Homo sapiens: one gene and its partners. The protein of the gene in region 1 purifies or fractionates together with the protein of each later gene. This does not show direct contact. Each region holds a gene or a part of one and is shown in the gene's direction. Other genes may lie near its edges.

Evidence for each region.
Region 2: the proteins of LGALS12 (region 1) and EMB purify together in Homo sapiens (affinity purification with mass spectrometry; 3 studies listed by BioGRID and IntAct, with this or other methods). This does not show direct contact.
Region 3: the proteins of LGALS12 (region 1) and PTPRA purify together in Homo sapiens (affinity purification with mass spectrometry; one large-scale study listed by BioGRID and IntAct). This does not show direct contact.
Region 4: the proteins of LGALS12 (region 1) and SLC38A5 purify together in Homo sapiens (affinity purification with mass spectrometry; one large-scale study listed by BioGRID and IntAct). This does not show direct contact.

Annotation. Positions count from the first base shown.
Region 1 is NC_000011.10:63,503,913-63,509,676, forward strand, and holds the start of LGALS12 (galectin-12), read left to right. Parts: upstream 1-2,171; 5' UTR 2,172-2,480; coding exon of another isoform or gene 2,481-2,546; coding exon 2,547-2,615; intron 2,616-4,074; exon of another isoform or gene 4,075-4,640; coding exon 4,641-4,729; intron 4,730-4,862; coding exon of another isoform or gene 4,863-4,865; coding exon 4,866-5,079; intron 5,080-5,764. UniProt on the Homo sapiens protein: Binds lactose. May participate in the apoptosis of adipocytes.
Region 2 is NC_000005.10:50,406,789-50,411,104, reverse strand, and holds part of EMB (embigin precursor), read left to right. Parts: intron 1-139; coding exon 140-228; intron 229-4,316. UniProt on the Homo sapiens protein: Plays a role in the outgrowth of motoneurons and in the formation of neuromuscular junctions.
Region 3 is NC_000020.11:3,029,665-3,033,980, forward strand, and holds part of PTPRA (receptor-type tyrosine-protein phosphatase alpha isoform 1 precursor), read left to right. Parts: intron 1-4,316. UniProt on the Homo sapiens protein: Tyrosine protein phosphatase which is involved in integrin-mediated focal adhesion formation.
Region 4 is NC_000023.11:48,467,461-48,472,249, reverse strand, and holds the start of SLC38A5 (sodium-coupled neutral amino acid transporter 5), read left to right. Parts: upstream 1-1,989; 5' UTR 1,990-2,068; intron 2,069-2,813; 5' UTR 2,814-2,915; intron 2,916-3,020; exon of another isoform or gene 3,021-3,225; coding exon of another isoform or gene 3,226-3,365; intron 3,366-3,833; exon of another isoform or gene 3,834-3,928; coding exon of another isoform or gene 3,929-3,945; exon of another isoform or gene 3,946-4,009; intron 4,010-4,324; coding exon of another isoform or gene 4,325-4,325; coding exon 4,326-4,378; intron 4,379-4,464; coding exon 4,465-4,540; intron 4,541-4,789. UniProt on the Homo sapiens protein: Symporter that cotransports neutral amino acids and sodium ions, coupled to an H(+) antiporter activity. Releases L-glutamine and glycine from astroglial cells and may participate in the glutamate/GABA-L-glutamine cycle and the NMDA receptors activation.

The DNA of each region.
Region 1 (5,764 bases):
GCCTTATTATGCCCTCTCCCCCTTTGAAATTCAGGCACAACTGACCAGCATTAACATTAAAACAAAAATCTGAAGACTGACTAAACAGACTCATTGTAGCAATAAGACACCAAGTTCTATCCTGGCTCTAGTATAGCATCACATGACAGAGGGCCCTGAAAGAAATTAAACCATTTTACCCCAAAATATTAATATACATATTTGACATATTTTGAAATGGCCCTGCAAACCTCACTCTTGTGGGGAAAATCTGCTCTGCAAAGCATCCCCTTCCCTTTCCAAGTCTTTTCCCTGATCCAGGCATCTTTTTAGGTCTGATAAGAGCTCTGATGCCTGCTTCCTGGAGGCTTCATCTGCATGATAAAACCTTGGTCTCCACACCCCTTAACTTAACCCAGACACTCCCTTCTACTGAGTCCAGGTCTGTAGGTACTTACTTAACTCTTTCAACCAATAACCAATCAGGAAGTCTTTGAATCCACCTATGACCTGGAAGCCCACCTCTTCGAGTTGTGCCACCTTTCTGGACCAAACCAATGTACATATCACATGTATTGCTTGATGTCTCATGTCTCCCTAAAATGTATAAAACCAAAATCTAGCTCAATAACCTTGAGCACACGTTCTCAGGATCTCCTGGGGCTGTGTCACAGGCCATTGGTCACTCATATTTGGGTCAGAATAAATCTCTTCAACTATTTCAGAATTTGACTCTTTTCTTCAAGAAACTGGCCCCTCCACCCTTAGCTTCCTCTCACTGTGTATACAGAGCACCCTTCCTGAGCACGTCTGATTGAATTTCTCCAAATAAGCACCTTCAGTAACCCAGCTCCACCTACTCGGCAACATCTGAACAAACTCAGCTCCGCACCCAAAGCCCTTCTAGTTCCATCCTAAGTCAATGCTTCTCAAACTTTAAAGTGCATCAGAATCACCTGGAGGGGCTGTTAAAATGCAGATTCCTGGCCCCAGCTTCCAGAGAGTGCTCCTCAGTTGGTCTGGGGTGGGGACCCCAAACTTGCATTTTTAACAAGTTTCCAGGTGAGGCTGATGCTGGTGGCTTGTGGACCACAGCTTAGGTAGCACTGGCTAAGATACCTTATCCCAGGACCCTTCATGCACTCTCCCTCCATCCAGGGAGCTGCTTACTCTGCCCTCAGCACCCCATGCGCTTGAGCCTTTGCCCAGCCTGGTCCTGGTCCAGGAATTCCCTGCTGCCAAGTCTGATGCAATGGGTCAGATCCTGGAACCTCCTAACTCAGGATAAAGTTGAGAGGTTGTGCTGCTTTTTAAAGGGAAAGCCTTATTGGGATTTGAACCAGAACTGGAAGGACTGTAGTAAAATGCAGATATTTGGGCCCACCCCCAGATACAGGCCTCGCTGTGGGACATGCTGCTATGGTCACTTTCTCCATGTACAGATGAACAAAGGGTGGCCCAGAGATAGGAAGTGACTTTCCCAAGGGCACACAGCACATTAGACGAGAGGCTGAAGAGGAAGTCAAGTTTCAAGTCTCCCTCCTGCGCAGTTCTGTGCTTCTTGTGCTGCCTTTTCCAAGCTTAAGGGGCTCTGCTTTTTCCCCTTCCCTCATTCTACTTTCTTGTGACCCCAGCTGGGCCCCAGCATTTCCAGCTGATGCTGAAATGGAGCCTCAGGGGGCTGTAAAACTTGGAAAAGGAAGAAGAGTAGAGGAAGGGGCAAGAAAATGAGAGGAAGAGAGCCAGGCGTGGTGGCTCATGCCTGTAATCCCAGCACTTTGGGAGGCCAAGGCGGGCGGATCACGAGGTCAGGATATCGAGACCATCCTGGCCAACATGGTGAAACTCAGTCTTTACTAACAATACAAAAATTAGCCGGGCGTGGTGGCACATGCCTGTAGTCCCAGAGAGGATGAGGCAGGAGAATTGCTTGAACCCAGGAGGCGGAGGCTGCAGTGAGCTGAGATCGCGCCACTGCGCTGCAGCCTGGCAAGAGAGCAAGACTCCATCTCAAAAAAAAAAAAAAAAAAAGAAAATGAGGGGAAGAGATAAAACCCTTTGTGGTGAAGGGAGGAAGGAATGGGAAGTCACCCAAGGCTGTCCAGGGAGCTGGGGGTGGGGCTGTTTCTGGAACCTAAGCACACGTACCACCTCCCCTTCCTCTGACCTAATGAGGGCTCGAGTTGGAAACCACAAACCCTCGTTGGCCCCACAGGAGCCAGCCTCTGGCTTCTCTCTGCAATGGCCATGTGCTGCAGACCCGGAGTGGGTAGTTAGTTGGTTAATGCCAGTCTTCCTCCCCTGGACACTGAGTTCTGCTGACAGCCCCCGCCCAGCCAGAGCTCTGCTGTATACCACCGGGAGTGGGGCTGGTGTGGAGCCTGGAGGTCGCCCGCTGCCCTCCTAGGGCTGCTCCAGACAGCATTAAAACGCTGCAGGTCGCAGGTGAGACTAACAGCTGGGAGAGCTGCTCCAGGCATTTAGGACCCTGACTGGGGCAGATGAGTCAGCCCAGTGGGGGCAGGGCTCCTGGAACGAGGATCTACAGTTGGAGTTGCCCCACTGTCATGTCACCTGGAGAAAAACTGGACCCAATTCCTGACAGCTTCATTCTGCAACCACCAGTCTTCCACCCGGTGAGTTGTCACTCTAATGTGGAACCTCCTCGGTCTCTGGGCTCTTCCCTTCCAACTGGGCCCACACTCCTGGGTGGTGGGGTGGAAAGGACCTCAGTCTTTCTGCTTCTCCCAGCACCTGCCCTGGGTTCTGGAAGGCCCTCCTGAGCTTAGTAAAGTGGCTGACTGCTAATTCCCACTTGGGTGTAAATGACTGCTAGGCTTCCAGGGTCACTGCATTTTGAAAGTGGCGAAGCCTGGAGCCACAGTGCTCTGCCCCTACTGTAATGGATGCTAGGAGGATGAGGGTGTGGGGGTAGGATTGTTGGGGGAATGCTGATTACTTAGTAAGGACAGTCTCATCCCCAGCCTGGAAGGAAGGGTCAGGTGGGAATTTCCACTCAGGGATAGGGGTTGGGGGTGTTTCTCTCTTTCTCCTCCAGCTCAGTCAGTGCCCAAGAGGTTTTCTGAAGCCAGGCAATGATTTACAGAAGGCTGAATTCCCAGCAGACACCCCCTACTAATGAGCATTAATTATCACTTTCCCTTACTTGGCCCTCCCCTCCCATGAGAGCTGCATCCACTCAGTTAATTACAGGCCTGGAGGGAGCCTGGGAATGGGAAGTGATCAACTGCTGAACCAACCAGCTGAGCTTGCCAAGCTGGCATCCCAAGCCTCCCTCCCATGCTTCTCAGGTGCCTGAGGAATGGGCTGAAGCAGCTGCCCAGGTTACGGCAGCTCCTTGCTTTAGAGGCTGAGAGCTCGCACCTGGAGGGCCATCCTGGTGGTTTTCAGTTTTTTCTAGGTGGTTTGGGTTCCTAAAGGTTGTTGGGAGTTAGAGAGCAACACAGGAAGGCCAATCCTGTGATACCACTGGTATGTACCTGCCATCCTGCTCACATTCATTCCAAACACATCTATGCAGAGCCCTCACGGCGTCAGGTGAGGCACTGAGCCTACAGGAGGGAAAGAGAAGGCTTCAGTTTTGAGGGGCTTATAAACTAGGGAAAAAAGCCAACCAGTCGCTCTAAGCCAAGGGCCAAGCCAGCCACATGAGCAAAATGCCCTGGGAGCTCAGGGGAAGAAAGGAATAATCCAAGGAACCCAAGTGGATGATGCTTGGAAAGAGTCAGGGTGGAAAGAGACAGGAGGAACAGCCCAGAAAAGGCAGGAAGTTGTAAAACTGTATGATGTATTTTAGGAAGGCCAGGCAACTTCTTTTTTTTTTTTTTTTTTTTTTTTTTTGAGACCAAGTCTTGCTTTTTCGCCCAGGCTGAAGTACAGTGGCATGATCTCAGCTCACTGCAACCTCCTCCATCTCCCAGGCTCAAGCAATTCTCCTGCCTCAGCCTCCTGAGTAGCTGGGATTAGAGGTGCATGCCACCACACCCAGCTAATTTTTGTATTTTTAGTAGAGATAGGGTTTCACCATGTTGGCCAAGCTGGTCTCGAACTCCTGACCTCAAGTTGATCCACCCGCCTCAGCTTCCCAGAGTGCTGAGATTACAGGCATGAGCCACAGAGCCCAGCCCAGGTAACTTCTACATGGGGAAAGGTGAGCCTGGGAAGGCCATTGTTAAGTGCCTCTCCAGGGGTCCATTTCAGAGTTAGCTGTCAGTTCCTAACTTGTCCATTCTTCTTGCCTCCCAGTTCCTAGTCTCCAGCCACTCAACAGTCCTCAGAAAGCCCCAGTACCAGGCTTCTGGGGACCAGGGTGACATCTAGTGGATGGCAAGCCTCCCTGGGGTCACTGCAGCCTGTTGTGTCCTAGGAGCTGGGGAAAGGCAACTGGCTGGTGCTGAATTTGGCAAGGGAGCGGAATTTGACTTCTCTGGTGTAATGCAGCTTTGCCGTGTGACGGTCCAGGAAAGGGGATTAGGTGGAAGAAAATATTTCAGTGAACACTGATTTTTACCTATAAGGAATTTTCTGTTTGGAGAGGAAAAGTTGAGTTTTATTCTGCTCCTTTCCTCCCACTCGCCTGACATAGAGGTCCCTAAGCCCTTTCTCCAAACCTGCATGGATGAGTTTCTTTTCTTGTTCAGGTGGTTCCTTATGTCACGACGATTTTTGGAGGCCTGCATGCAGGCAAGATGGTCATGCTGCAAGGAGTGGTCCCTCTAGATGCACACAGGTAAGGCGGGGGAGGTGGCCCAGGGGGTGCTGGAGCTCAGCCCTAGAGGCATCGAGCTGGAGGGCTCCTCCCTGCCACTGAGATCTCTGTGGGTCTCTGGTCAGAACCGCACTTTGAGAGCCTCACCTCCCAGTAGGTTTCAGGTGGACTTCCAGTGTGGCTGCAGCCTGTGTCCCCGGCCAGATATCGCCTTCCACTTCAACCCTCGCTTCCATACCACCAAGCCCCATGTCATCTGCAACACCCTGCATGGTGGACGCTGGCAAAGGGAGGCCCGGTGGCCCCACCTGGCCCTGCGAAGAGGCTCCAGCTTCCTCATCCTCTTTCTCTTCGGGAATGAGGAAGTGAAGGTGAAGGAAGGGACGGGCATTGGGTGGTCTAGAATTTGTGTCCTTGCGCCCTTCCTTCCCTCAGCCAGACTCCCCACGACACAATGTTGAGTGGCATTGGTAGTGGTCAGGTACCAAGAGGACCAAGGAGCTGCCATGCCCGGTTCCAGGCTGCCCTGGGCCCACATGGCAGCAAGAAAGCTCTACAGTGCCTGGCTCCAAAGAGGGCACTCCTGCCATAGTCATGGCAAGCACTTAGAGAGAACCTACTGTATACCAGGAACTGTTCTAAGCCCTTAAAAGTATCTGCTCATTGAATGCTCACAATAACCCCATTAGGTAGGTACCTTCATTATCCCCATCTTACAGCCACAGTGGCAGGGGAGAGGGACAGAGAACTTGATCTCAAGGTTTAGACCCCTAATGTGAGCTCCTGCCAGAAACATGATGGGATCTTCAGACATCTCCAGGAGACAGGGCAGCTGGCGGGAGGGTAGCCTCTTGAGCCTCAGTTTCCTCACGTAAATGGAGCAAAGATGACTCTTTGGGCTGCTGAGAAAGCACAATGAGGGGCCTCTGTTGGGGTAGAGGGAGCGTTGAAGGTGCCTTAGTCTCCAGGCCAGCTCTGCAACCTTTGGAAGATTACTTAAGCCGCCCAAGGCTCTGTAAAATGTACCTACCTCATAGAGATGACGTGAAGTTAAGT
Region 2 (4,316 bases), on another chromosome or scaffold:
TTGAATGTTATGCTAATATTCTAATTTGCATATTTACAGAATTATTTCTCTTTTTAAATTTTTATTAATGGCTAAGTCTTTTCATTTTCATTAAGGTTTTGAGAACTAAGCCTATATTAATAACTTGAATTATCTTTAGGTTCACCATCATTAATAGCAAACAAATGGGAAGTTATTCTTGTTTCTTTCGAGAGGAAAAGGAACAAAGGGGAACATTTAATTTCAAAGGTCAGTATTAATAACTTGAGGAATAGTTAATAACTTCAGCATTATGTTCTTAGATTTCTCAATCCTGTAATTTTAAAATTATTTTTACAATAATAAACATAATGTAGCTGAAAGAAAGTCATATGCTTTCCAGAGCCACAAGAGGCAGCCTTGAAAATGGTCTTGTATCCCCCAAGTCCACTTCCTTCCTGCTTCTATTCCTCAATTTAAAGCACATGTTTTAGTTCAAAAGGCCAGCCTACCACATTATTAGTGAATTATATCAGTTGCCTGAATTTCTTTATTTATCTCTCTAAATTCATAGCTCTTATAATAGTCCTCCACGTTTCTAAGTTATTGTGGTCCCAGCCTCTGAGAGTGTGGGTTGATGTTCTATATCCATAGCTCCAGGACATGGGATTTTAGGATCCATAAAACTTAAAAATAATATGGAGATGCACAAACGGTTGCCTACTTTTTATCTCACCAAGTAAGGAGGTTTAAAGATATATACAAGCCACAGAATATCATCCACATTTCTTTTGCTTGGAAACAAACGAATTAAAATATTTTACTGTTACCATCATTAAACCAAAACTCAAGAAGGTCTCAATCTCATAATAAAGACTAGTTATTTGAGTTAGATAATTATCATTATGAAAAACCCAGTATTTTGTGGTGATTAGTGAACCATATTATCGTGCTGGTATTTGGGAAATGCAATCTGTCGCCATATTAACTACGTCGGACTCTGCTTTGCATTAATTCCCCAGGAAACATGAAAATTGTTGTAACTTTTCCTAAAACTCCTAAAGCCCGACTGTCTGCTGTGACAGAATGTGGATGCTATTCTCAAGGCTCCATCAATAGCAGAATGGCTTGCTTCACCATTGCCATGATCTAATGGTTCACTCCTGTGTCCCTCATTGCATCCCTTCTGCACTCACAGAGTCATTTTATTTTTATGTCTTTGTAATTGTTCCAATGTGGTGAATATAATAAATTCTTGTATTTATATATCTTGGTCTCTCCAAAAGCAGAAACTAGTATCATTCTTTGATTATTTTAGTCATGTATATTCTTTCTTAACTTTTTTCCCTCCATTTGCCTTTAACTTGGTGAAGGACTAGATAACACCATATACATTTCCTTTCAGTTTCCTTTTCCTTATGCATTTCATTTTTCCCTCCCCTGCCCCATCTGCCCTTCCCCTCCTCTTTCCTTAATCTCTCTTTTCCTTTCCCTTTTTCTGTCCTTTCTTCCCTCCCACCTTTTGAGTTCATTTCCTTCCTTCCCTTCCTGCCTCCTTCCTTCCTTTTTTCCTCCCTTTCTCTTTTTCTTCCCAATGAGCAAAAAATAATACTAAACACACAAAATTTCAGTGAACATGTTTTATTGAGTTTTTAAAAAATATGTAAAGAAGGCCTACAGATTCTGAGGAAATGCTCACAGAATCTTGTGACTTAAAGTGCTCCCAAGATATTCAACTTTAAACACTTTTTTCTTTTTTTTTCTAAGACATTGTGCTCTGGAAATATATACTAGTCATACCTGCTTTCAATATTGAAGATAACACATTTTTCTCATTAGTTTTGATAATTACTTAAATTATTATGTGGAAGTGACCATTCTTGTGTCTAATGTGAAGATTAACAAGCATTTTACTTTTCAACATACCAATACATTGAATTGCAAGTATTCACACGGAAGGCCTCTTGATTCTCCAACTGTTTTGAGATAACTAAGCTGATTTTGGCTGGTGTCAGCAGCGCTGACCCAAGGCCTAGGATTTAAATCAAGGCTTTAAGGAAAGCAAAGAATCACTGAACATTTACTTTTTTTTCTTTTCTAGTTGTCTTGAAGCAGTTTAGGTTAGCTAATTTGTTTTTAATGCCCCTTTAACATTAATGTAACTTTTAAGTATGTATTATATCTTGAAGATATTTATAAAATTAATAAGTTGGGTCCTTTTAAATCTTCCTTGGTAAAATAAAAATTCCCTATAATTCATCTAAATTGAATATTGCTTACAGAAATAATTTTTACTTGAGTAGTATTTAAAGACATCTGTACATTATGGATATTATAGTTATTTAATAGGTCTGAAAGGCTTATAAAATGGTGTGTATTTTTATAAATGTCCTATTATATTATTTCTCCATATGGTTTACTTAATGGTTTTTCCTAAGAAGAATAATTATCTTTTCTTAGAAGACTTACAACTGCATGTAGATGAAAAGACTGTTTTATTCTCTATTTTAAATTGAACCAAAGATAAATTTTTCTGCCATTGACTACATGAGCCACCTATAGTGCATGAGCCTGAGTCTTCAGAACAATTCATCAGCAAAGTCCCTGCTGCTGTCTTTATGGGTGCTGGTTGATTTACTACTACAAAGTTGTAAAAGGCCCTCAAGATTACTGATTAGTTCAATGCACAAAAACCTGCTGACTTTATGTGTTTCGCTCTTGATGCCAGGACAGAGGAGACAGCAAAAGTGTACACTGGAAGTTTGTGACTGCTAATAAGTTGCTGATTACTTGCCACCCGAGAAAGAGAAAGATGAGTGATGGTCTATAGTGTTTCTCAGTAGTGGATCAAATATTCTGAGTGGTTGCTGAAAGCTTCCATAATATTTATCAGTGTTAAAATCTCTTAGTAGAAAGTATGCAGAAATTTAATTGGTAAAGAACAAGAACTTTTTGGAAGTCATGATGAGATTTTGATAGTACCAAATGTAGTGAAGCCTGTCAAAGCTCAACTATCTGTCTTCCCCTGGAAGTATCTAAAAATATAAAGTATGGAAAGGTAGCATAATAGAATCAGCTAGGACTTCAGCCCTGGATCCCAGTGTTGAAGTATAGTTAGCATTCTTTTACTACATGGAGTAATCTTTTTTCCTAATTTAGTGGTACCTAAAAGTCTTTGAACCAATATGACATTTAGGCCAATTTGTTCTAGTTCATGAATATACAAATATAGTCTCCAATTTTACAACTCCAGAGAGCTGTTACTTTCACTGGGTATATCCAAACCCCATCTTCCTAGAAACTAGCCTGAATCAGCAATTTCACCACCTTCAAACCTGGTTTATTCCAACCGTAGCACTCGTATGCATCCTACTTTATGCAAAGTCTTAAAAGGTCGACAGGGCACATTAGAATACTGTCTCACTGTCCTTATATTAGTAAATATTTCCAAATATAAGCTGTGGCCCTGAACCCCAGAATAGTTCAAACAAATGTCATGTTCCCTGAACATAGTGCATTTTATAATTTAAATCCACACTGCTGTTATTAGCCATATATAGCAGAACAAAAGCATGGTTTATGGTATTTTAGTCATTAGTCTAGGGGATAATCAAGAAAACTGAAGAGATGGCAAGAAAACAGAATTTTGGTTTCAGCTTTTCCATGTTGTCACTCAGTCATTGTCAGCTACCTGCAATTTACAGCCTGATCTTAATATTTAGTTGGGATGGTTTAATAACATAGTCATGTGTTCCTCATCAAATCTCAGAATACTCAACTTTCTTGAAAAGCGCCTCGCAGCTTCCATTATGCTTCCCAAGCAGGTAGCTCTTCAAGGAATACTGAAAAGCAGTGTATATTCTGCCAGGTTTTTCCCCAAGAATTACCTTTCTTCCACATTTTATTCTTAGCCTGTGGGTAAATTTTGGTATTTTGAACCTATTTCAACACATATTTTCATGCTAAAGCATGACTCAATTGCCAGAAAGAAACATGTAGAGATTGAGAAATAGGATATCTGAGAGATAAACAACCTGGGAAAGCGGAAACTGTGTCCTTAATTACTGAGTGTCTAATGCAAAGCCTGCACTCCAAAACAGTGTTTGTTTTAAGGTGAGCCTAACAGGGCTGTTGAGGTCATTGCCCTAGTAATGCACTAGTGCATCTTGTGCCTCTTCAGATGGAACTCAGGAAGTGTGGCTGCTCTTCCTCTCAGGTTGTAGGGAAACTTGTGGCTTCAGCAAAGAATCCCTATTTTAGCCAAGCTCCAATCTCTGCTTATCTGCAGGTCTTTAGTTGACATGATTTCATCCATTCTTTCCCTACTGGCAAACTAAACATATAAATGAAAAAAGTAA
Region 3 (4,316 bases), on another chromosome or scaffold:
TAACTGGGATTAAAGACACCCACCATCATGCCTGGCTAATTTTTGTAGGCACGGGGTTTCACCATGTTGGCCAGGCTTGTCTCAAACTCCTGACCTCAGGTTATCTGCCTGACTCAGCCTCCCAAAGTGCTGGGATTACAGGCGTGAGCCACTGCGCCCAGTGTCTTCATCATCATTAATAACAATACTGATGAGGTGGGAGGTTCGGTTAAGGTGCTTGGCTTTGCACTCAAGGAAGCACACACCTGAGTAACAAAAGCTGTTTAGGAAATGAGCCACTGTGTTCTCAGGAGCTAGGTGCCTGTTCCTGCCGTCTCTGATCAGTCGTGATGGAACCTGCAGATCAGACCAGGGCCCTACCTGTGGTTCCTTCTGCACCCCTGCCCTTCAGATCTGTGATGGGCAGGACCAAAGAGCAGGCCGAAGAGCTGGAACCACGAGCACAAGGACCATCTCGGCCCACTGCCCTGTGATAAAATGTGGCCCAGTGAACATCTCCGCCTCTGTCCAGTCAGATGCAGGCTCTTCCATCCTTGAAAAGGACCTAGTGAGAGTAAAGGGCAGGGGGCAGGAAGCATTTCATGTGTGTGGCGGTGGGGAGAAGAGTCGTGCGCACACAAATTCTGCTGCCTGTTGAGTGAGGCCTCTCCCTCTGCCTTCCACTGTAGCTTATGCTCTGTCTTCCTAGGCCAGTGAAGCAGACAGTAGTGCTTGCCCTCAAAAGCTTCTGAGTGGATTGGAACAGGATGTTAGTGATGTTCTTTACAAGGCCTCACTGGCCCCCAAGTTCACTTTCTGTTCCATTCATGTTGTCAAGTGTAGCTCCCAGAAGTAATTAACGCACTAAGCCTAAATGATGCAATGAAAGGTGCCTACACTTATACAGTGACACTACCATCCTCACCTACAATATTAAGTTCCCAGAGAAAAAAATTCGATCCCATAATATAAATTCTGTACTTACAAATTAAAATCTCGAAGGAATTAAAAATTTTTAATTATCTCCCTCTGCTTTTTTTTTTTTTTTTTTTTTTTTTTTGAGATGGAGTCTCACTCTGTCCACCAGACTGGAGTGCAGTGGCACAATCTCAGCTCGCTGCAACCTCCACCTCCAGGGTTCAAGTGATTCTCCCACCTCAGCCTCCCGAGTAGCTGGGATTACAGGCATGCACTACCATGCCCAGCTAATTTCCATAGTAGAGACAGGGTTTCGTCATGTTGGCCATGCTGGTCTCAAACTCCTGACCCCAAGTGATCCGCCCGCCTTAGCCTCCCAGAGTGCTAAGATTACAGGCATGAGCCATTGCGCCTGGCCTCCTTCTGCTCTATTTTAATCAAAAGGGTCCACCAGGATGCCTGGGTTCCCTCAGCAGCTGCAGCTTGGACCATCATCAGCCTGGGCAGACAGAGCAGTGCCAGGAACTCCCATGCTGGGTCAACCCTAGGCCTAGCCCAACCCTAGGCCTCATCCTGCTTCTCTAAAGCATAGTGAAACCTGATAGCATTAGTCTTCACAAAGCTGTGTGTCCCCATCACCATGTCCGCCTTAGACCTCATAAGAGACATAAGACATAAGAGACTTCATGCTATCTGGTGGAAAGACAAAGTAGGAGAAAAGACAGAAAACCTTCCCTGTTTCACTTCTTTAAGATGCTATTATCTAGAGGCCGTAACGTGAACACACAAATCTGAGATGAAACTCCAGTCCCCAGCTTTTCTTCTACTGGTCTTGAATCCCCATTCCCCATCTTCTGTCCCTCACCCACTGATGACTTTAACACCTGGCTTACTGCTCCTTTTGAGCCCCTGTTCCTGACTCTGCTTTTGGAGGCATCAGTCACCATGTGGATGATCCATCTATCCTCAATCTTTCTATTCCTCAGCTTCCTCAGCCACCTGATCCCATGGTCAAGTCACCATCTGCCCTGTATCTGCACTGCCCTTGGAATCTCAACAAGGCATCCGCCCTGTTTACTGCCTCCTTCCTCCCACCTCAGTATTCTCTTTTATTCCAGTCATTTTTGTCTTCATCAAGTCCTTAGAGTTATTGATGCCTCCACTTTCTCAACATCAGTCACACCGAACATGTCCTCACCTTCCTCCTTACTCTGTGTGTTTTTGAGTTCTGTTTTTGAGCGTTTGAGTTTTCTGATTTGAGTTTTTGTGGTATGTCATTATTACCTTTCCTTATTCCCTCATGCTTTCTTACTTTCATAGCAAACTCTCTAGTAAAACCCAGTTATATGCCTCTATCTGATATAGCAAACATCACTGGGCAAAAACACAAAACAGTGCCAAATGCTCTCACACTGAACTCATGACCACAAATCTCATAGAGGTAATTGGTGCCACCTAGCAATGCTATTGCTCTTTCTTTTCTTCCTGAAACCTCCAGCATCTGCTCTTGCCTGTCCCATCATACTCACACCTTAGCTTGTGACCTGGCCTCATTCTTCTCCAAGAAATCAGACAAGAACACTGTCATCCTCCCACCCCCAAACAACCAGCCTCTTCAAATCTGTACCAACTCTATTCTCTCTTGTTACAGTGGAAAAGGGTTTCTGCATCTCTCAATCCACCTGTCCACTGTGCTCTTGGCCCCATTCCGTCCTGCCTGCTCAGGGATGTTGCTGCTATAACCATCTTCTCTCCCACCTCCATCAGCAGTTCCCCTCTTTAACCACTACTCTCATCAGCCTATACATGTTACATTTCCTATCTTTTAAAAACAAAAAATCTGCTAATCTCACTTTCCCTTCCACCTACTATCCTATTTCTCTGCACCCCTTCCCAGCAAAACTCCTTTAAAGAGTTGGCTTTCGGCCGGGCGCGGTGGCTCACGCCTGTAATCCCAGCACTTTGGGAGGCCAAGGTGGGCGGATCACAAAGTCAGGAGATCGAGACCAGCCTGGCCAACATGGCAAAACCCCATCTCTACTAAAAATACAAAAATTAGCTGGGCGCGATGGTGCATGCCTGTGATCCCAGCTACTCGGGAGGCTGAGGCAGGAGAATCGTTTGAACCAGGGAGCTGAAGGTTGCAATGAGCCAAGATCGCGCCACTGCATTCCAGCCTGGTGGCAGAGTGAGACTCCATCTCAAAAAAAAAAAAAAAAGAGTTGGCTTTCTCCCTGCAAGTTCTCTGTTCGCTCTGTTCCTTCCAGGCTTGGCCCCACTGGGACTGCTTTAGTCAAGATCACCAGTGACTGTCCTCTTGCCAAATCCAAAGGTCATTTCTCTTTTCTGATTTTTTTTTTTTTGTCCTTACAGCAGCATTTGAAAGAGTCAGTACCTCCCTCCTCTTCCTCAGAACACTTACTTCCGTAGCATCACCCCACTCACTAACCTGGCAGCTCCTTTGTTATTTCTTTGTGACCTCCTCCTCTAAAACATTGGAGTATACTAGACTCGGGCGCTAGCCCACTCTGTTTTCTTTTGACACACTAGCCCTTCAGGATCTCAGCCAGTCCTATGGCTTTAAGTACAACCCATATGCCAGGGATCCTCAATCTGCGTCTCTAGGCCAGTCACCTGTCCCCCTTCCCAATGTGGGCTCCTGATTTCCTCCTTCCCCCGACACCAGTCCACCCCACTCTTAGCCATCTAAATAAATAGTACCACCTTCTGCCCAGTTGCTCATGTCTAAAATCCGGGAGTTACCTTCCTTCCTCCCCTCTCCTCACCCCTCACATCCAGTCTGCCACTGAGTCCTGATACAGGCAGAGCCTCCCCACTTTTCTCCAGCGTAACTGCTGTCATCTGAACAAGCCCTCGTCTCTCACTGCTTGCCCGTGGGACTGTGGGCATGACTCATATGCGCAGCCTCGTCTGCAGTGGCCTGGCAACTGGTCCTCCTGCTCTCATCCTAACCCACTTTTAGTTTTTCAAATGGCAGCTGCTGGTCCTTTTGAAAATATAAATCATTGTCACTCCTTGTCTTACAAATCCTGTTTGAGGCCAGGTGCGGCAGCTCACGCCTGTAATCCCAGCACTTTGGGAGGCCGAGGCGGGTGGATCACCTGAGGTCGGGAGTTCGAGACCAGCCTGACCAACATGGAGAAACCCCGTCTCTACTAAAAATACAAAATTAGCGGGCATGGTGATGCATGCCTGTAATCTCAGCTACTGGGGAGGCTGAGGCAGGAGAATCACTTGAACCCGGGAGCCGGAGGTTGCAGTGAGCCAAGATCGCGCCATTGCACTCCAGCGTGGGCAATAAGAGTGAAGCTCCATCTCAAAAAAAAAAAAAAAAAAAATCCTCTTTGGTCTTCCAGAGATCTTGAGAGAAAATCCGCCCATGTATACAAAATTTAGAG
Region 4 (4,789 bases), on another chromosome or scaffold:
TTTTTTTTTTTTTTGAGATGGAGTCTCACTCTGTCGCTTGGGCCGGAGTGCAGTGGCGCGATCTTGGCTCACTGCAACCTCCGCCTTCCAGGTTCAAGCAATTCTCTTGCCTCAGCCTCCCGAGTAGCTGGGATTACAGGAACCCGCCACCACGCCCAGCTAATTTTTTTTGTATTTTTAGTAGAGACGGGGTTTCGCCACGTTGGCCAGGCTGGTCTCGAACTACTGACCTCATGATTCACTCACCTTGGCCTCCCAAAGTGCTGGGATTACAGGCATGAACCACTGCACCCGGCCCAACTCATACCTTTTTTTTTTTTTTTTTTTTGGCAACCGTGTGCATTGGTACTGTCTGTCGGTGCAGTTCATCTATATGTTGTTGTGTGTGTGTGTTGCTTGGGTGTTTGTCTCCTTTGTAATGGTCGTGGGTGACAAGTGTGTCAGAGTACTTGTCCCTCCTATATGTGTATCTATGCGCACGTATCTTTCTTTGTGTGTCTGCTGCTGTATTTGTGTCTCTTCTTAGCGAGTGGCTGCAGGTATGTGTGCCCTCGGGGTGTTTCTTCTGGTGCCATGGTATGAGTACTATCTGGTTCTCTTGTTTTTTCCTTGTGTAGCTTTCAGTGTGGTTTCTGGATTTTTTCTTTGCAACGATAGTAAGCGTACTCTGCATTCCTGTGCTTTGTGTTTGTGTGCAGGTATATGCTTTCCCTATATGTTTCTTTTCTGACTTGATTTGTGACTAGCTGTGTGTGTACACGGCTGTGTGCAGCCATTTGCTGAAATGCAGTTGTGTGTGTGTGTGTGTGTGAGAGAGAGAGAGAGAGGAGAGAGAGAGAGAAGGAGACTATGGCTTTTCTGTTTGTACAAAAATCATGTCAGCCTATGAGTGCCTCTCTCTGTGACTGGAGCTGTATGTGGTTACATGTGGTCACAAGTGCACATTCAAGTTCACATACACAGAGATATCATTTTAGGGCTTGAACCTGGAAGTTTGCCTCCAGGGTCATCTGAACCTGGATTCAGGTTCAGATCCAGGGCCATCTGAACCTGGATCGTGTGTGTGGGAAAGACCCAGGACCCACACACAATGTCATCAGCTGTGTGTAATTGTGTGCTCTGTGTGTGGCTGTGAATCTGTGTGTGTGATTTGCCTGTTGATTGTCTTTGGCATGGCTGTGGGTCCACGGGCGGTGAGGTTCAGGAGTCTCGAGTGTCTGGAAATCGGCACAAGCCTATCCCTGTGTTAGTCTGTGCTCTCTGTGAGCGGCTCTGAGCCTGTCGGTATTGATAGCTGTAAGACTATCGTCACTCTGTGTGGCCACGTGTGTGACTGTCCCATGAGCCATTGCTCTTAACGTGCAGTGGTGAGTCTGTGTGTGTTCATGTCTGTCAGTCTTTATTCTCTTGTGTGGCTGTGAGTCTTTGTGCACCTCTGTGAGTGATGGCGAGTTGGCCCCCGTATCTGAGCCCCTTGATGGGGCTGTGATGGGTCCTGTTGTGTAGCTGCGATTCCTGAGTGTGCAGGAGTCTCTCTCCCGCTGTGGGGAAGTAAACGCCCCATCCCTTGTCCTCCTCCAACTGTGGGTGGGGTGAGGGCATCTAGGCCAGCTTTGAAGCCCCAGCCAGCTCCTGGCCTTTCCGGGAATTCTGTGTTCCCTGTCGGGGGTGGGCAGGCGGGCGAGGGGCCCAGACAGAGGCCTCTTGTCCACCTGGGCTTCAAGCAGCCCAGTCGAGGTGGTCCCAGACCCCAAGTCCACCCTGCCTGACATCCTGTAGCGGACACGTGGCTTGCCTGGGACAGGCATGCCTGTCATATGCCTGGAGGGGAGTGAACAGACGGACTCCCATAGAAGACAGACGGACAGACAGATAGTGGGACTTCTCAGGGCTTGGACAAGCCCCACCCCACGCTTGGGGTGGGGTCCAGGACTACAGTGCCCGCCCAGTTTGCGGACAGTGTGAGTTCACAGTCCACATTCCCCACCCAGCCACAAATGCCCTCCCTGCCTCCCTCTGGGGGCCCCCAAGATCTAGGGTCCTCTCGTGCCTAGGCTGTCTGCCTGAGGTCTGCCTGGAATAGCCTGGCTACTACCCCTGCACCTGTTCCCCTGCTGTCCCCAGGCCTCTCTGCCTGAATCTGCCTCTCTCTGCCTCTTTTCTCCTGTCCCTCCAGGAGTCTCTCTGCCTCAACCACTCTCTCTGCCCCTTCATCTCTCTGAGCTGGTGTGTCTGGTCCTACCCTCTGTTTGGGGAGCTGTCTGGCTCTGTCCCCCACCTCTTGGCCAGCCTGTGTCTCCTGTCTATGACTGAGCCCAATTGCCTGTTGCCTTTCTGCAGGTGTTTCCACGAGCCTATCCCTACCCACCTGTTTGTTTCTGAGTCTGCCTGTGTGTCCCTTTCTCCCTGTCTCTGCCTGTCTTCCAAGCTCCCCTAGCATCCCCTCCTCCCGCCCATCTGTCTTTCTGTCCCTTCTGTGGTCTGTCTGTTCCTGTGCTGTTTCTCATGCCTGCTTTCTTTGTAACTTCAGTTCTCCTACTCTCTCTCTGTCTCCTCTCTGCACCTTTTTCTGCCATCCATCCCATCCTGCTGTCCGTCTGCTCTGTGAGTCCATCCCCTCTGTCTGCCTGTCACTCTCTCTAGCTGTGGGTCTACACCCTCAATCTTTCAGGCCATTTCCCCCACCATCAACACACAAACAAACCGCTGTCTCCCTCCAAGTGGGTCCAGATAGGGGGCGCCCCTTCTCCACCTCTTCCCCCGCCCAGGGCCAGAAGGAGGGAAACGAAATTAAAATTAACATTTCTTCTCAGGAAAAAAAAAAAAGTACCGCTCCAGAGCAGGAGCCTAGGCAGCCGAGAGGGTGCCCGAACCTGAGTCTGAGTTGCGGCCACTTCAGGAGCTGAGAGGAGCAGGTAGGTGAGGAGGGAGCGTGGGCTGCGGGGATGGTGTTCCTGGGGGCCTGAGATATGAGTAGGGGTCCTGGGAGGGGGCTCGGGGTTCCTTGGAGACATTTTAGCACTAGTGGGGAATGGAATGGCGTGTATGGGGAGGTCCTTTTTGTACCCTGATCCCAGGAAGTGAATTCAGGTGTGGGTGGGAGGCTCCGGAGGGTGCTGGTGGTGGGGGATGGGACTCCTTGAGACCCTCCCTGTCCCAGGAACGGGATTCAGGACTTGGGAAAAGGATTTCCTGAGCCAGTTTGAGCTCTAATGGGGACCTTGAATGGGGGTTTCTGAGATACCTCCTTCCCAAGGAGTAAGCGCGGGAGGGAGCTGGGGTTTCTTCAGAGACGCTGTACCTACAAGACAGGGGCTCCAGGCTCGGGTGGGGATTGCAGAGACACCCCCACCCCAGGAAACTCGGTAGGCCACGGGAGGGGGTCTTTGATGAAGGTCTCAGAAATAGCTCTTCCTCCGGAGGGAAATGAGGGCTCGGGCCAGGTTCCTGAGACACCCCACACCCCACACCTAGGAAGTTTCTCAAGTCTGGCAGTGTCTCCAAATTGACTTCTGCCAGAAGATGAGTGTTTAAGACTTGCTAGGGGCCCTGGAAAAGACCTCTAGGCCCTAGAATTGGGGTCAAATGGGAGTCCCTGGGTCATTTCTGTCCCTGGGAAGGGGCTCGGTTCGGGCACTTGTCTTTGGCTTCTAGTGAGGATATTCAGAGTCGTGGCAGAGAGCAGTTTGCAGCGTCTGGGGCAGGGGTCTCCGAGTCTGTCCCCAACCCTCAGCTCACTCAACAGGTTGCATTAGCTCTGGTCTCGGGCTTGGGGGCCCAGGCGGGAAGGAGGGGGGTGAGGGCATTAGGAGGGGTGGGGCAGCCAGGCCGACACGTGTCCCTGCAAGGAGTGAGCCGCCTGGCCACGCGGTGAGGGTGGAGGGAAGGAGAGGGGGTGGCGCGGGGGACCGGGGAATGAAAGACACAGATGGCAAGAGAGACAGCGTGAGTCTGGGGTCTGGGAGGAGAGGCTATCCCTTCTCCACGTGGTCGGCTCATCTGCGCTGGGGTCCGGCTCTCTCTGTAGCTTTCTGTCTCTCTCTTCCCCACTATTTCTCTCTCACTGGCTCTCTCTGTGTCTCTCTGAGTAACTAACTGTTGGCTTCTCTCCTTCTCTGATTTTTGTTCTTCTCTCTCTCTCATCTCTTTCTCTGTCAGTCTGCCTCCATTTCTATCCCTGTCTGTTCCTGCTCCCCTGCCTTGTCTCTTTCTCCGTCTTTCCATCGGTCTCTATGGGACTCCCCTCCCCCCTTCTTCAGCTCCCCTCACTTTGAAGCATGCTCGTTCCATCTCTGATCCCCCCACCCCATTTCTTTGCCCACAGGATGGAACTGCAGGATCCAAAGATGAATGGAGCCCTCCCTTCGGATGCTGTGGGGTGAGTCAGGGGTCCAAGGAGGTGGGCTCAGGGATCAGGGGTCAGGATTTCCCTCTTATCGGCCCCTATTTCCCTGCCCTATCCAGCTACAGGCAAGAACGTGAGGGCTTCCTGCCCAGTCGTGGTCCTGCTCCTGGGAGCAAGCCGGTCCAGTTCATGGATGTGAGTGGCCCCACAGGATCTGTCCTGGTGGCACCTTCCCCAGCTAATCTCCTCCCGCACTGCTCCCTCTTCCCCACTCCTCCTCCTCCCTGCTGTTCCCCTGCCCAGCTATCTCCCCAGCACAGCTACACACTACTTGGTCGCTCCCCTCTCCAGATACTCCTCTTCCCCAGATATGCCCTTTCCAGCTCTCTCCCTGGCCTTGTTTCTCCCCACCCGCTCTTCGGCCCAGTGACTGCCCTCCCTGGC